Regions from separate parts of the Homo sapiens genome. Here region 2 is linked to region 1. The links come from fine-mapping of genetic effects on gene expression. Tissue or cell type: whole blood. Region 1 holds a variant in brackets; the other region holds the start of a gene. All regions are shown on one strand. Distances are between the middles of the regions.

Region 1 (8,102 bases):
AAAATCTCAAGACATTCTCACTTCCCTCGGCAGGCAGCCGACTTGGATGGAGAAATTGACTTGTCCGCATGTTACGATGTCACAGAGTATCCAGTTCAGAGAAACTATGGCTTCCAGATACATGTGAGTCCAGGGATGGAAGTGGGGCCACAGGCTTGACAGGCAGGGATGCATGTCAGAGTGCCTAATGTCTGGGCTGGGGGCACTTCTGGACAGGCCTGATGCAGCGTGTATGGTCAGCACTTAGTCTTTCCCACTACCCTTGACACCTCTGTCCTGTGGCACCTGACCCTATTCCCCAATTTGTGATGTGAACAGTACATTAGACGTTAGTATCTTTTTTCTGAAGACTGCTTAAAGCTTTTTTGTTTCTGAAGGTTCCTTTTTTCTTTTGTTTTTTGTAATGCTGGAGTTGGGGCAATTGGAAGGATGTGGGGTATGGGGAATAAGAATGAAAGTGTTAGTCAATTATTTACATCCGCTTTTTACTCACTTATTCATGTGTTTGTTCATTCATTTACTTACAAGGCTATTTTTTCCCAAAATCTTGTGAGGTACTCAGATGAGCAAGGCATTGCACTGTTCTCAAAAAAAAAAAAAAAAAAAAAATCTTATTGGTAGGACAAAATGGTTCTTATTGGCTGTTTCTTCAAAACTGTGTGGATCAAGGACTGCCTGCAGTCAGCCAGACTCCAGGTTAAGAGCACAGTCCTCCTGACTGCCACATCTGCCTCCATTTCTTTTTTTTTCCCCCAAGACAGGGTCTCACTCTCTGTCCAGGCTTGAGTGTAGTGGCACAATCATGGCTCACTGCAGGCTCGAAATCCTAGACTCTAACGATCCTTCTACCTCAGCCTCCAGAGTAACTGGGACTACAGGTGCATGCCACCATGCCCAGCTTATTATTATTATTATTATTATTATTATTATTATCATTATTTAGAGAGACAGGGTTTCACCATGTTGCCCAGGAGGGTTTTGAACCCCTGGGCTCCAGCGATCCACTTGCCTTGGCTTCCCAAAGTGCTGGGATTATAGGCATGAATCACTGTGCCCAGTCCTGCCCCCACTTCTGACACCAGTTGTGAGTCCGGAGGTTTCCAAAACCACCTTCAGTTTCAAAAATTCACTAGAATGACTCACAGGATTCAGGAAAGTACTGTCTTTACAATGAGTTTTATTATAGAGAAAGTATGTAAGTCAGAACCAGCCAAGGGAGAGCCATGTGGAGTAGAATCTGGGACTGGGGGAGTCACAGATGCCAAAAGTTTCTGCATCCTTGGGGACACGGTGTCCTCTTAGCCCTGATGTGGGGCAGTGCGCAGAGCATTGCCCGGAAGCCCACCTGAGCCCCGGTGTTGAGTTTTAGGAGGCTCTGTAGCTGCTGTGGTTGATGGAGTTGTTGTCCTCATAGTTGAACTCCACCTAAAGCCCTTCCCGCCATGGTTGGCTACTTTCACATGGCCCAAACCCCAACCCTCTGATTTAATGGGTTTCCTCTAATTTCCTGCTTCTGGCCAGGCCAGCCTCTACCCTGAGTTGTCTTGTCAGCATGAAGTGTTAGGTGGGGTCCCAGGGTACCACCATGAGTAACAAAGACTCTAGTCATTCAGGAAATTCCAAGGTTTGGAAGTTACCTCCCAGGAGCTAGGACAGAGGCCAGGCCTCTCTTTGGGTAAAGTTAGTTCGTCACTCGCAAGGGCTTTAAGATGGGTGGAGAGTGTGATGAGTAGAGAGCTGCCCCCATGGGGCTGGGCCCTGGCCCTGGGACTTGGTTCTCACACAAGGCTAGACTCTGGTGGGCTCACCTGTAGCAGGGTCATACCTTCAAATTTTGGGGCCCAGAAACTCAATTTTATTGCTGTGTTGAGAGTTGATCCAGTATTTGGGGCTCACTCAGTTTGGCCCAACTTAGAGGAGACTGAAGTATAGACCCAAAGGCCAGTGTGTTCATTTACTAAGAAAATCCTGGCCGCCAGCCCACTGGGCTGCTGGCTGTGGCTTCCTGCGTGCAGGCATCTGCGAGAGGAGCTGAGTCACAGTTGGAGGCTACACTGACAGCCTGGCACCAGGGCCGGGTGTGAGTTGTCTGCTCTTAGTGGCCTGCACTGCCCAAGTTTCAAGGCTCCTCTGTCCTCATCCGCTGTGGGAGGGGTAGGCGGGCATAGTGCCCGGTGAGCCTCCTCTCCTGCCGTCCACCTCCCATCTTCATGAGCAGCTTTCTCCAGGCAGGGCACACCTGAAGTCTGAGAACTCACCCCGCTCTCCTAGTGACAAATGAGGGCATCAGCCACTCTCACCCACTGATCAACCCCTCCTCACTTCACCCTGGTAGGGCTTATCCTGATGACTTTCGGTGATCCCCAACTACTGAGAGTTCTAAGGAATGAGGAGATGCTTCCAGTGTGGAGAAGGCTTCCTGGGGGAGGCTTCCTGGAGAAGGATCCCTCAAGGCTCAGCAGGAGGGATGAGTGTGAAAGCATGTCCCAGACTGGACTCCAGACCTGGTGGCACAGAGAGCACAGAGCCAGTCTGGGGCTAGAGTGCTGGGTGGAGAGTCAGGTTGGCGCTGGTCCAGCCTTTGTGGAGAGCACTGAAGGGTGTTAGAAGATGCCAGTCAGTTGTGCGTTCATGATACATGTCTGGCGGGACATGCAGGTCCATTAGAAAGGAACCAGGCTGGCACGGTAAAGCTGGGCAAGAAAGGAAGGAGCAGCACCTGGGAGGAAGAGGTGAGGGCAGGGCCAGGACCTGGCAAGAAGGCCCCGCCCACTGAGAAGCCAGCAGAAGAGCTGACTTCACAGAAGCAGGGGGATCCCCTGGAATTCCGGCTGTGATCCATTTGAGGCATGATGGGCTCTCAGAGAACATTAGGCAGCCGCTGGGAAAGAAAATTCAGCTGGAGAAAACAGCTGTATGTGGAGTGCTGAGGCCAAACTCCAGCAACGCCCACACCTGGGGGTGGAGAAGGATGGACCCAGGAGAAGGTGGTACCCCCCCAACTCAGCTCACATGGATATGAGAACTGATGAAGGAGGACCGAGCTGGGCAGTGGTGGTGTCTTGATCGGGCATGTGGAGGGGCAGGTCAGGTCCCTCCCAGCTGTGCTTTGTGGCACGTCAGGCCGGTGCGTGATCTCCTGTTTTGGCTTCTGGCCAGGCCACTAGCACCCATCCGAAAACCATCCTCATGATTGCATCCTGCCGTCAGCTTCCCTACTGACCTGGCTGCTGAGTCTGCTTGTGAGCAGCTCTCGGTTCAAGGCTGCAGCCCTCGCTTCTGTTGGGCAGGTGCCTGTAGGTGCAGAAGCAGGCCTCCAGCTCCATGCAGGCCACTGGCCCTCCCCTGCCTGGTACCCAGGCAGGTCTGCTCAGGGGCGCAGTGGTCATGTCCCAGAGCCATGTGCTCTTTGCTGCTTTGTCCTACCTGCTGCCCCGTTCCTCGCCCAAAACAGGCTCCTCCCCTGCTACCTTGCACAAGCACCGAGGACAAGCCCTAGACTCCACCTCATCCAAGCAGGAGTCTAGGGCTTGTCTAGGTGCTCCCCAACCCAACCAGCCAGACGCTGTTCATACCCCTTTTGTTACTTCTGAGCTGCCCTGTCCCCTGCCATCACCTTAATTCTCATCACTTGGACAGCTGCAGTAACCACCCAGCAGGTCTCCCTGCCTTTTCTCAGTGCCACCAACAAGACCCTGATACCCCTTGTTCTTAACCACTCCCTGGGCCCATCATGCCATGTGCCTGTGTGAGTGCAGACTGCAGGTGCCACTCCCCACGCCCAACACACACGCCCTTCCGGATTCCCCACCTCCACCACTGCTCAGCACATGCTGATTCTGCCCTTCCCCCGAGGCTGGGAACTCCTTAAAGAGGGGTGCAGCATCCTCCTCTGTCTGAGTGGACAGGCTGCTGGTGCGTAGTGGGTGCTCAGTAACTGTGAGCTTGTTACTGAGAGAAGATACCGGATTTACCATTGCCACAAATACACGTCCCTCCCACAGCTTTGACGTCTCCTGCTCTCCAGCTCCCTCATGTCCCAGTAGTGGGCACATGTGGCACTCCTAGAAGGGTCACCCAGTCACAGCCTTTCTCCCTGTGGGACTTTACCCAGTGCAGGGAGCTTCTTTGGAGATGGAGGGCAGCAGGCACCCTAGGGGACAGTCACTGATGGTGCCTCATCTTTTCTCTGTAGACAAAGGAGGGCGAGTTTACCCTGTCGGCCATGACATCTGGGATTCGGCGGAACTGGATCCAGACCATCATGAAGCACGTGCACCCGACCACTGCCCCGGATGTGACCAGGTAGGATGGTGAAGACACCAGGGAGCCCTTTGTGCCTCTTGTGGGTGCCACTCCCGCCAGGGCAGTGTCAGACTCAGGTCTGAAGTCTGAGACCTGAGCTCAGTGCATCCCAGTCTGCTGCTCCTTCCTTCCTGTGTCCTTCTGTTGCTCAGGTTCCTGTCCCAAGTAATCAGAACAAACATTTCTGGTTCTTTTCTCTTGTAAGCCCAAGCGTTTCATCTTGCAGGTAGCATGTGTGCTGGTCATTAGAACTGGGCTTTGGTGGAGAATCTTCCATCTGTGTCAGCAGGCACTTGGCCAGACCAGCCTGAGCCCCGCAGTCGGTGCTCTCAGGCCTTGGGCTCTGCTGCTCTAAGGGTGGCCCCATGTGCGGCATCCATAGGCCACCCAGTGCTTCTTTGTCTTGGCCTTCTTTTCACCTCACTCCTACGTCTGTTTGATTTCTGTGCAGCCAATTTGAAAAACCCTCTCCTGTTTTTGCATTCTGTGGTTCATGTGTCTCAGATTTTGCTTTGGGCTTTTTTCCTCCTGCCCTGAAGGTTAAAGACCTAGTTCTCATTTTAAAAGATGGAGAATCAGAAGACTCAGACATATCTAAAACAAAACAAAACAAAAAAAGCAGAGAAGATTCCAGTGTGGGGGCTGGTCCTTTGATGGCCAGAACTCTGCTGTCCCCACCTTCAGAGCCTCCAC[G/A]CATCTGAGCACCTCTGGTGCCATTTCTCAGGTCATGTGATGTAGATTACATCTCGAATGTGTTTCTTGTGCTGTGGGTTAGGCTGCTTGGGTGTGGCAATGTCACAGCGGGGGCTGTCCATGGAAGCTTTGACCTAAAAGCGTGTTCTTTTTTTTTTTTTTGAGATGGAGTCTTGTTCTGTTGCCTAGGCTAGAGTGCAATAACGTGATCTCGGCTCGCTGCAACCTCCACCTCGTGGGTTCAAGCAGTTCTCCTGCCTCAGCCTCCCAAGTAGCTGGGATTACCCACCACACCCGGCTAATTTTTGTATTTTTAGTAGAGACGGGATTTCACCTTGTTGGCCAGGCTGGTCTTGAACTCGTGACCTCAGGTGATCCACTCGCCTTGGCCTCCCAAAGTGCTGAAATTGCAGGCATGAGCCACCACAGCCGGCCTAAAGGCACATTCTGTATCCAAACCTTTGCCTTCTTCCTGCGGACTCCACACCTCTTTACATAAGAAGGAAAGAACTCCTAAATTGATTTCTTTATAGTCCTCTTTTCTGTGTCTGTCATTTGTTCATGACTTCATTTATTAAACAAACACTGTCTAGTAAGGCCAAGAGGCCGTGACCGGGACAGGTTGCCCTCTGTCTCTCAGGATCCTATGCAGAGAGCTGGCTTGTTGTCTAGTGACAAGTCCTCTTTGTGCACAGCCAGCAGGAGGCACCCAGAGCTGCAGCAAGCTCTCCCACCCTCCAGGGGCCACATCCTGTGGTGGCCTCAGCTACTGCTTCCATGGCTCTCCCATCAGGAGCAGACACCCAAGCTTGACAAGCTAAGTGCTCTTTTCCAAGCACCTTTAGGAAGCCACCAGAGCAAAGTGAGAAAGGCCTCAGCTTCTTTGCCCAAGCTATTGGCAGCAGACAGAGCTTATCACGGGGGTCCAGGATGGGGAGTGGTGGGCAGTGCATATGGGTAGCTGGCCTGAGGTCCTCTCCTGCCCCTCTTCCCAGCCAGGCCTGGGCTCGGTGCTGTAGATTGGCAATCCTGTCTGGAAGAAGTCAGCTTTGGGATGTCCCAGGGCAGATGTCAGGAATGCACCTGTGCACATGCCTGTGCCTGCACACAGCTCAGGAGAGGCGCCTCCACGCTTGAGTGCCTGCTTCCCTGCGTGCAGGGGCTATGGGCCCAGGGGAATGAATGAGGAGACAAGGGTTTGGCTCTCACATGAAAGTTGACCTGGCAGTTGGCCTCCTGACTAAGAATTACTTCATAACCTAGCATATCTGCATAGTCTGGTAGAGTGCTCACCCTCCACCAGTTTGTTTTCAGCATTTATTCTTCCTCTGTGTAGGCTTTTATTATTTGAGGAAAAATGTGAGTTTTTTAGTGCTGCCAGGCAAAATCTCAAGGAGGCATGAAAACAAACTGCAGTCTCAGAAGCTGCTGTCCTCGTCCTGCTCTCATCGCCATCTTGAAGTCCTGGGGTGGGGAAGTTGCAGGGTGCTTCCCGCCTTTGGCACTAGAGGAGCCTTGTGGGGAGGTTTCTCCTAGGGAGTGCGGCCGGTTCTGGTGTGGCTGTGACTTTGGCGGCTGTCAGGGCCAGGCTGGGGGCCTCCATGCATGCCCTGCCCTATGTGTCATCCTGACACTCTCCATGGCCAGGAGCTCTTAGTTCAGTGACGTCACAAGATCTGCCCTGTGTCGTTTTCATCCAGATGTTAGCGTGCTCTTACAGTGGACACCTGCAGATCCTGTTGCTGTGAAGCACTTTGCCTCTCACTCGATTGCTGCCTGGACAGGTGACCCTTGCTCCAGGTGGTGACGGCAACCATTTCCTCTTTTCCTTGGTTCTCTCTCTAAAGACTCCTTTCCTTTTGGCCCTAATTGAAACACATGTGCTCCCTGGAGCTCCTCCTTGGGCCCTCACTGTCCTCAGGTGGGCTTGCAACTGCCTTCTGAGGGCCTGGGTGAGATTAGGGGCCCCTCAGTCAGCCTCGGACCAGCTGGCAGTCTGTGGGGCCTATCTCTAGAGTCTACAAACCTTTGCCTCAAACACTCCCAGCCTCCTTGACAAATTGCCATCAGCAATGTCCCTGTCCCTGCCCTACTGCAGACGAGGCCTCCCCAGGAATCTCTGCTTCTAGCAGATGGGGACTAGACATGGATTCCTCAGGCAGACCTGGCTTCACTCCACTTACTGCAGGGCAGGTAGCAGCACCATGAGCACGACCTGCGCAGCTCATGTCCCGTTGCTGGCTGCCGCTTGCCTGCTCAAGGTGGCAGGTAACCCAGTGTCCTTCTCCCCTTCTGCCTTCCTCTCCAAGCCTCTGGCTACTGCATGGTGTGAACTCGTGGCCACCTGGGCCTCCTGTTTCCCTCACCCTTAGGAGGTCCCAGTCTTTCATACTGATCCATCTGTCATGCCAGCAGCTGGATTGGGCTTTTAAAACATAGATTCAGGCTGGGCACAGTAGCTCACGCCTGTAATCCCAGCACTTTGGGAGGCAGGCGGATCACCTGAGGTCAGGAGTTTGAGACCAGCCTGGCCAACATGGAGAAACCCCGTTTCTACTAAAAATACAAAATTAGCCAGGCATGGTAGCGCATGCCGGTAATCCCAGCTACTTGGGAGGCTGAGGCAGGAGAATCGCTTGAACCCAGCAGGCAGAGGTTGTGGTGAGCCGAGATCGCGCCATTGCACTCCAGCCTGGGTAACAAGAGTGAAACTCCATCTCAAAAAAAAAAAAAACAAAACATAGATCTGATCACGTTACCTGCTTATTAAAAGGTAAGCCCTTCTAGAAAGTGCTAGTTTTCCCTCATTCTGTCACCACTGTCCAGTCCAGGGGTGCACAGGGCCCAGGCCTCACCTGGCAGGTACGGTGGCTGTGCCCAGGTGCAGCCTAATGTAGTTCTTGGCCCTGAGCAAGGCAGGGCTGGCCCGTCCTGCCTCTGAGGCTGTGGGAGTCCTGGGACTCCCCTGGCTCCATACCCTGGCAACGGGACCACCACAGTGAGCCCCTCACAGCCTCTTCAGTCAAGGGACCCCCCCAGTGTCATTATGTGGGAAACCTCAGCTTTCTGAGGCTCTTTTCCCTTCCTTTCCCCTTCCCCTCCCC
Region 2 (8,102 bases), 110 kb before region 1:
TACTAAAAAAATACAAAAAAAATTAGCCGGGCGTGATGGCGAGTGCCTGTAGTCCCAGCTACTCAGAAGGCTGAGGCAGGAGAATGGCCTGAACCCAGGAGGCGGAGCTTGCAGTGAGCCAAGATCGTGCCACTGCACTCCAGCCTGGGCGAAAGAGCGAGACTCCATCTCAAACAAAAAAAAAAAAAAAAAAGAAAGAAGTGCTTATGTCCACCAAAGACAAGCACGAAGATACTCGTAGCATTATTCATAATGGCCCCAAACTGGAAACATCCTGAATGTCTATCCACGGGAACATGGACAGATAAATTGTAGTATTTCCACACAAGGGACTACCAGGCAGCAATGAAAAAGAATGAAGTACTGATATATACAGTAGCCGTGTGGATTGAATTTCACAGGCATACTGTTGAATGAGAAGAGCCAGGCATAGCTCGCAGCGGATTCCACTCATCTATGGTGATGGAGATCAAAATAGTGGTTACCTCTGGGTATCTGTGTGTAAATTCTGCTCCCTAACAGGACACAGGGAAAACTTCCCAGGATGGCAGTCAGAGCCACAAATCAAGACTTACCTGCATTTGGGGCTCACCTGAGCGGCCTTTTCTTGCTTGCTTGCTTATTTGCTTTTTTGAGATAAACAATATACATTGAGGTGTACACAATGCAGTGAAAAAAGCATACAGCCCAGTGAATCTTTACATGTTTACACTGAGTATTGAACTTCATGCAAAGTGCTGTTCTAGGCCCCTGGAAAGGGAAGCCAAGGTTATGAGACACAGACTGTGTCGGTATGGATTTCATAATCTGGTGGAGGAGATATTACAATACAAGGTGGAACGATGACTTTTCATCCATTCACCCATGGGGTGTTTTTCTTGTTTGTTTTGTTTTTTGAGACAGAGTCTCACTCTGTCGCCCAGGCTGGAGTGCAGTGGCACGATCTCGGCTCACTGCAAGCTCCGCCTCCCGGGTTCATGCCATTATCCTGCCTCAGCCTCCCTAGTAGCTGGGACTACAGGCGCCTGCCACCAAGCCTGGCTAATTTTTTGTATATTTAGTAGAGACAGGGTTTCACTGTGTTAGCCAGGATGGTCTCGAACTCCTGATCTCATGATCCGCCCGCCTCGGCCTCCCAAAGTGCTGGGACTACAGGTGTGAGCCACTGCACCCCCATGGGGTGTTTTTGAGCCCCTGCTCTATGCCAGGCACTGAACTAGACAGGGGAAATGGAGTAGCAACCAAGACCCCACTCTACCGTGAGGGTTTTGGAGAGGAGCGCAACTAATTGATTCTACCTCCTAAACATTTTCCAAATTCATTCCCTTGCCTCCCACTGACCCTATCCTAGTCAGGCTGCTACCCTCTCTCCTCTGCAGCTCTCTCAGTCCTTGCCCCTGATTCATTCTCCAGATCAGCAGCCCTTACCTAAGTGCTCAGCCGAAAAAAATTCAAAATTGATGACTGCCCCTGGCCCAGGCAGCTCCGGTGCTGGCCTGTGTGGGCTCAAATCTTCACTTGTAGGATCTATAATTGTGACCACAGGCAAGTTCCTGATATGTCCTGAGCCTCGTGTGTGTCTTCTATAAAATGGAGATGAAATAGTATTAACAACAAAAACCATACCTGTCTCCCTGAAGAGGCTAGGCTTGCACCATCCACTACTCCTCCCAGTGCCTCTCAATGCTGGTCACTCCTGCCTCTCTGAACTACCCAGTGATAGAAAGCTGCTTCTGTTCATGAACACACCCTTTGGTTTCAAGGCCTGAGACTCTATAATTGGTGCCCCAGTTTGACGTGTCTTTCCCTTCACCTTCTCTGGCTGGGTCTTACTCAGCTCCAGACTCGGCCTAGGCATTGCCTCCTCCAGGAGCCTTCCCTGAAGCTGCCTACGGGGCTGGGTGCCCCTGTGTGGGCCCCCACAACACCCCGGATTGAACTTCTCTGTCTCCTGTTTCTGTTTGTCTCCACTTGCTTGAGTGTGGGCTCCTGCCGGGCAGGCTGCCTCTGAGTTGCTGAATGAAACTCTTCTTTGCGCCCCTACTGTGGACCCCTCCAGTCCAGTGCAGGTGCTGGATGTGCCTACTGACCTGAGCAGAACATGCTGAGCACTTTAAGGGAGGTGGCCTTGAGGAATGGGCAGGACATCAAGAAAGAAAATATATATATATATATATATATATATGTATGTATATATATATTTTTAAACAAGTTGTACATGCAGACAATACTAAATTCAGCAGAAACAAAAGGGATTGCAATGAAAATTAAAAGTAGGTCACCTCTCAACCACCCAGCTCCCCTCCCCAGTGGCCACCTCTTCTATCAGTTTCTGAGTATTCTCTGCAGGGCAGAATTGTCAGTCTTCCGTCCCTTTTTTATTTTGCAAAAATTTAAAGCAACAGAAAAGTTGCAAGAATAGTACAATAAGGCCGGGCGCGGTGGCTCACGCCTGTAATCCCAGCACTTTGGGAGGCCGAGGCGGGCGGATCACGAGGTCAGGAGATCGAGACCATCCCGGCTAAAACGGTGAAACCCCGTCTCTACTAAAAATACAAAAAATTAGCCGGGCGTAGTGGCGGGCGCCTGTAGTCCCAGCTACTCGGGAGGCTGAGGCAGGAGAATGGTGTGAACCCGGGAGGCGGAGCTTGCAGTGAGCCGAGATCCCGCCACTGCACTCCAGCCTGGGCGACAGAGCGAGACTCCGTCTCAAAAAAAAAAAAAAAAAAAAAAAAAAAAAAGAATAGTACAATAAACACCTTTTGCCTAGATTCACCAATTAACATTATGCTACTTAACAAGCATTATATCATTTAATGTTCACATTAATTAATTAATGCCAATTTTGTACATGAGGTCACTGAGGCACCAGGCAGGTTAAGGGACTTGCCCGAGGCCACAGAGCTCCTGCCTGGTGGAGCTGGGCTTTCCCCCTTAGGCTGCCAAAGGACTTTGATCTGCCTTCCCACAGCTCCCTTTTGAGGAAAAGCATTTTCTTACACTAAGTTGAAATCCACCTCCCTGGGATATTTACCAGATGATCCGTGGAAAAGTACACAGCTCTGGAAGCATTTGCTACTTCTCCTCCTAAAACCTCCTCCATTCCCTGAGCGACAGCTGCTGTGGCTGCCACTACCACATGCTCCAATGTCACCTCCTCCGTGAAGGCTGGGTTAGCTCACCCCCCTGTTTAAAGACTCACCATGACTCCCAGCTGCCAGTGGGATGACATGTGCACGCCTGGGCTTGGAATACAAGGCCTGGGTGATAGAGCCCTCTTCCAATCCCTCTTGCTCCTTCTTCCCCTATCTCCACTTCCAGCCACACTCAACCCTCTCACTGTCCACTTAAACTTCCCCTCCTCCTTGAAGCCACCCGAATTTTTCTAAAGAGCGCATTTCTCCCCTCTCTGGGCTCCTGCAACCTTCTGCCTGAGCCTTTGACAGCCTTTTCCAGGTTGTCTTTTGGCCAGGAGGCTGGACAATGGAGGACGGGAGTGACAGCTCGGCCCCTTCCTAGCAGAGTGATCCTACACAAATTACTCCAGGTGTCTGACCCTTCATTTCCTCAAGCACATCATGGGGGAAAGAATGCCTAGCTCAGCACCTGGCAGAGAGTCAGCCTTCGCTCATCTCCCCTAATGGAGCTGACAGCTCTTCAAGTCCGCTGACATCTTCTCTTAGTCATCCCTTGAAATACTACCCGCTGTTACTTCTCTGCTCCTCAGTCTCCTCCTATGTAAAATGGGGATGAGAAAGGAGAGGTTGCGAACCTTTAATGAGCGAGCCCTTGGAGTATCCAGCCCTTCCCGACGCTAACTGACTCCTACGAGGGGGCCTGGTACACAGTAGGTGCTAAACTAATCCTCTCCGAGCTGGGCTTGGGGAAGATGCCTCCGTTGGGTGTACAGCGTGGGCGCGGGAAGGCGAGCCTGGGAGCGAGGGGGTTGCAGAGAGGCAGCCTGAGGTCGGCTCCGCCTTCCCCCGCATCCCCCGCCCGGGCCCTGCAGCTGTCAGCCCGGCCGGCCTCGGCGCCAGTCCACCAAACCTGAACGTCCCATGCCGGCGCCCCCACCTTCCCGGCCTGCACAACTTACCTTGCGCTCGGCGGCCCTCGGTCCCGCCCCCGACTGCCATTGGCCCAGAGGTTCCTTTGTTAGCGAGAGCGCGCCAACCCCATTGGCCGGTGGGGCTGCCGATCGCGTCGGGCGCGGCCCCGCCCCGTACGCCCCGGCACCTCCCCGCGCCCGGCCGCCCGCCCGCCCGCCCGCCCGCCCGCCCCCGTAGTGCGTGAGGCGCTCCGGTCCCATTTGCAGCGGCCGCGGGGCGCCGAGGGCAGCTGCGGCGGCGCGGACGAGCCGGGACGGCGGCGACCGGAGCCTGAGAGGCGGGCCGCAGCGGGAAGCAGCGGGCCCGAGGCCGCGTCCATGGGCCCGCGGCGGCCGGGCGGCGGCGGTGCGGGCGGGAGCTGGGCGTCGCGCGCGCTGTGAGGCCCGGGCGGCTCAGGAGCCTCGGCGCGTGCAGCGAACCGCCCGCCGGGAAGGAGGCCGGGCCGGGCCTGCGGCGGGGCCGGCGAGGGATGCGGCGCGGCCGCGCTGAGCCCCTAGCCCGCCGGGAGCGCCAGGCCGGCCAGGCCTGCGCCGCCGCCGCCGCCGCCGTCGCCGCCGCGCCGACCATGTCGGCAGCCAAGGAGAACCCGTGCAGGAAATTCCAGGCCAACATCTTCAACAAGAGCAAGTGTCAGAACTGCTTCAAGCCCCGCGAGTCGCATCTGCTCAACGACGAGGACCTGACGCAGGTGAGCGACTGGGGCCGGCCCGGACACCTCCGTTCTGGGAGCCGCGGGTCGGCGGCCGGGGCGCCGCCAAGGGCTGCAGGGAAAATAAAAATGGAGCAGGGAAATGCGCGAGTCCTGGGGCATGGGGACGGGGACGGGAAGTGCATTGACAGAGCTGGGACAAAGGGAAAATCCTCGAGTATGCCGAAAAATAACATCCTTTCCCGTTCCCATTGCCCGGCTGTGTGATTCATGCTTTTTGGGTGACTCAAAAGTGCCTGGTTTCGCTTAGTAGGAACAAAGCGCTTAGGGATTGCATGCCGCTTGACGGGACCCCCCTGAGATTCTGGCTTGGGACTGGACTTGGATTTGTCCAGCCAGAGTGGCCCAGGGGTCGGATTGTTGGGGAGGACTGTGGGCTTCCGTCTAGTGGGACGCAGCCTGCCCCGATTCTGAATCATCGTCACTGTCAAGCACTGGAGAGAGGTGAAGGGGTGTCCAAATCTGGCGAGGAGGGTCTTGTTCTTGAACTTAGTTTGGCAGGCCGTAGTTTAGCGGGGAGCTGGGACCAGTTCCCTGGTCACTGGCCGAGGGGTGAGGAGACCTGTGGGTCCTCGGGAAAGTTGATTTCTGTCTCCCAGCCTTAACTGTCAAACAGGGCTTTGAACTAGTTATGACTCCCAAACGTGCATTAGAGTCATAGCCATTAAACACAGAGTTCTGGGGCCCCCGCCCTGGAGTGACTGGGGAGATGGGGAATTTGTATTGATGAAAGGCTCCAAGAGGCTTGGCTGCAGCCCCCATGGCCCTTGGGAACCCCTGCAGTGATTGCTGTTTGAACTCCTAGTGTTCCAGGATTCCGAGCCTTGTGTGCACCTCCTTGGGATGTGCCTCGGTACCCTCCCCACGGCCATCATCTCCATCCTCTTCAGAGCTTTCTCTCAGCCTCCTGAATGAAGCCAGGGGAAGTCCCTTCACATTCCAGTCCAGTGTGACCTAGTTGTAGCCACTCCTGTCGCAGAAGAACCCCTTAGACTGAAAACGAGTGAACGGGCCTGGTTGTTTTTAATGCCACTTCAGTGCACCCAGGGTTTGACTTGTTTACATGGCCGACTGGAGTAGGGTGGTGGGGCAGGGGTTACGGCCTGGGGCACGGGGCCTTTCTCTGAGGTCAGGTTTCCAACTGCCAGGAAAAGATTCCTTTCATCTAAACCCCAAAAGCTTAACGAAACACTCAAGGCTGCAAAGTCATAGATGGTTAAGATACCAAGGGTTTTAAGGACGGTCAGCTTGGGACGGATAGAACTCATTTACCTCGGAGGGTGTTTTGGAGTGTAAAGGAGAACTTGATTCCTTCTTCTCATCTGGATGCTTTTTTGGATGAAACAGTTTATGCGATGAGGAGTTGTTAGGAGACTTTGCTTCAGGTCTTGGCTGTCACTTCCAGCTGTGTGACCTTGAACAAATCCCTTTACTTCTGTATCTTTTAATTTCCTTATCTGTAAATTGGGAATCCTGGTCCCTGGCTTACCTCCTTCACTGAGCATTTGTGAAAAGCAAGAAATGATATTTTATGAAACTTTTTTCTCTTACAATTTAACAAACCAAAAAAACCTGCCACTTTAAGAAGTTTCTGGGCAAGGGTTGTTCTGAGAGAGGTTTGTAAGTTTCCTGGTTATTCTAAGCAACTGTCAAAATTGGTAAATTTACACCTCATAGGGGCTGTTTTCGAATTCTTAAGCTTAGATAAACTAGGATGGAATCTGCATGTTTGAGTCCAATCTGCTAAGATTTTTTTTAATCTGTTGATTATTAATTGGATTCACGGGGAGAGGCAAACTTAAAATACTGTACTCTCACTGTATTCAAAGTTGAATTGTGGGTTTTGAAACAGGCCTGAGACCTTCAGGGCACAACTGGAATGGTAGTTTCTGAAATAATGAGTGGGGTTATTTGTGCTGGGAGAGGTTAGCCCAGCATTCTACCTCCTGGGATCTTTCAGGAAGAAACTGCTCTTGAAAAGAGAGGAGGGAGACTCAGGGCTGTTGCCAACAGCCTTCTCTGCTGCTCTCTGCATCCGGCCCTCCCTCTCACTCTCATCCTTATGGCTCCATTAGAAAACCTCAACCAATCGGTTCCCATCAGTCTCCCCCAAGCCCCTGCTTCCTGCTGCCCCTCCCAGCCTGGAGCTTATTTTAGACCGTCAAAGCTGGAAGATACATCAGCCACCATCGAGGCCACTCCCTCCTTAAGAGGAGAGGATACTGGGCCCAGGGAGGTGGTGGGCAGCCTTGGCCGGCTTTTGCTCTGGAGATGTCATCTTCCCAGGAGCAGACATTTCTCTGAGCCTTTTGGTTTGAGGTTTATTTCCTCAGCTGTGGGTTTTGTTTGTTTGTTTTTCCCCTAGAGAGGCACAGAAACCTCTTGCAGGGACTGTATTATGGCATCAGACCTGGAAGGGACTTGGAGATCAGCTAATGTAACCACTTCCTCTTACCGGTGAGAAGATTGAAACCCAGAGAAGGGAAGTGACTTGCCCAGTTCAGGGATGGAGCCAGGATTCTGAAGCCAATGTTAGTTCCCCTACTCCTGTTCAGGGTCTACAGTGGCCACACCATGAGCACATGATGAGGACAATAATGTCAGGGATAGTTATGTTGCAGGAGGTGCCTTGAGAATGCTGGCTTGGAGCAGTGGAGTTCTTTGCCTTTTCCTCCTCACGGAAATTTGGAGTAATCTGGGATAAGTGATAAGTGACCGTCCTTTATTACTTGTTCCAGGCCCCTGTTCACAGAGTGTCATTTATCCTCCAGTTTTCCTGTGCATTTCTCAGCGACATACGGACCCAAATATACAGTTTTTTTTTTTTTTTTGAGGCGGAGTCTCGCTCTGTTGCCCAGGCTGGTGTGCAGTGGCGCGATCTGAGCTCACTGCAAGCTACGCCTCCCAGGTTCATGCCATTCTTCTGCCTCAGCCTCCCGAGTAGCTGGGACTACAGGCACCCGCCACCATGCCTGGCTAATTTTTTGTATTTTTAGTAGAGACGAGGTTTCACTGTGTTAGCCAGGATGGTCTTGATCTCCTGACCTCGTGATCCGCCTGCCTCGGCCTCCCAAAGTGCCGGGATTACAGGCGTGAGTCACTGTGCCCAGCTCAAATATACAGTTAAACCTTTTTATCCTGAACTGTGTGCATGTATTTGCTCTGCGACATATTTTTTGTTTTCTGCTTATCAGCATATCTTTACGTTCTTTTCATGGTGTTGCATATAAAGATGCCAGAACCATTTTGCATATTAGGCCTTTAGGAGTGTACTATAATTTAAC

Evidence for each region. PIP is the estimated chance that this variant, and not a neighbour inherited with it, causes the effect.
Region 2: it holds the start of MPRIP, and the variant in region 1 is fine-mapped to the expression of MPRIP in whole blood (INTERVAL, PIP 0.98).

The regions. Positions count from the first base shown.
Region 1 is chr17:17,150,111-17,158,212 of GRCh38, forward strand. MPRIP (myosin phosphatase Rho interacting protein) reads left to right here. Exons shown (of 24, transcript NM_001364716.4): 12 at 34-123; 13 at 4,196-4,305. Among named protein-coding and RNA genes, the nearest start is that of PLD6, 52 kb to the right of the region's middle. RefSeq lists an enhancer at 231-310. The variant G/A (reference allele first, on the strand shown) is at 4,999.
Region 2 is chr17:17,038,175-17,046,276 of GRCh38, forward strand. It overlaps MPRIP (myosin phosphatase Rho interacting protein), which reads left to right and starts at 4,283. Exons shown (of 24, transcript NM_001364716.4): 1 at 4,283-4,797. The coding sequence starts at 4,675. It overlaps LOC124903938 (a long non-coding RNA gene), which reads right to left and starts at 4,151. Exons shown (of 3, transcript XR_007065644.1): 1 at 4,097-4,151; 2 at 3,607-3,734; 3 at 1,169-1,583. RefSeq lists silencers at 3,848-4,307, 5,981-6,275 and an enhancer at 4,970-6,169.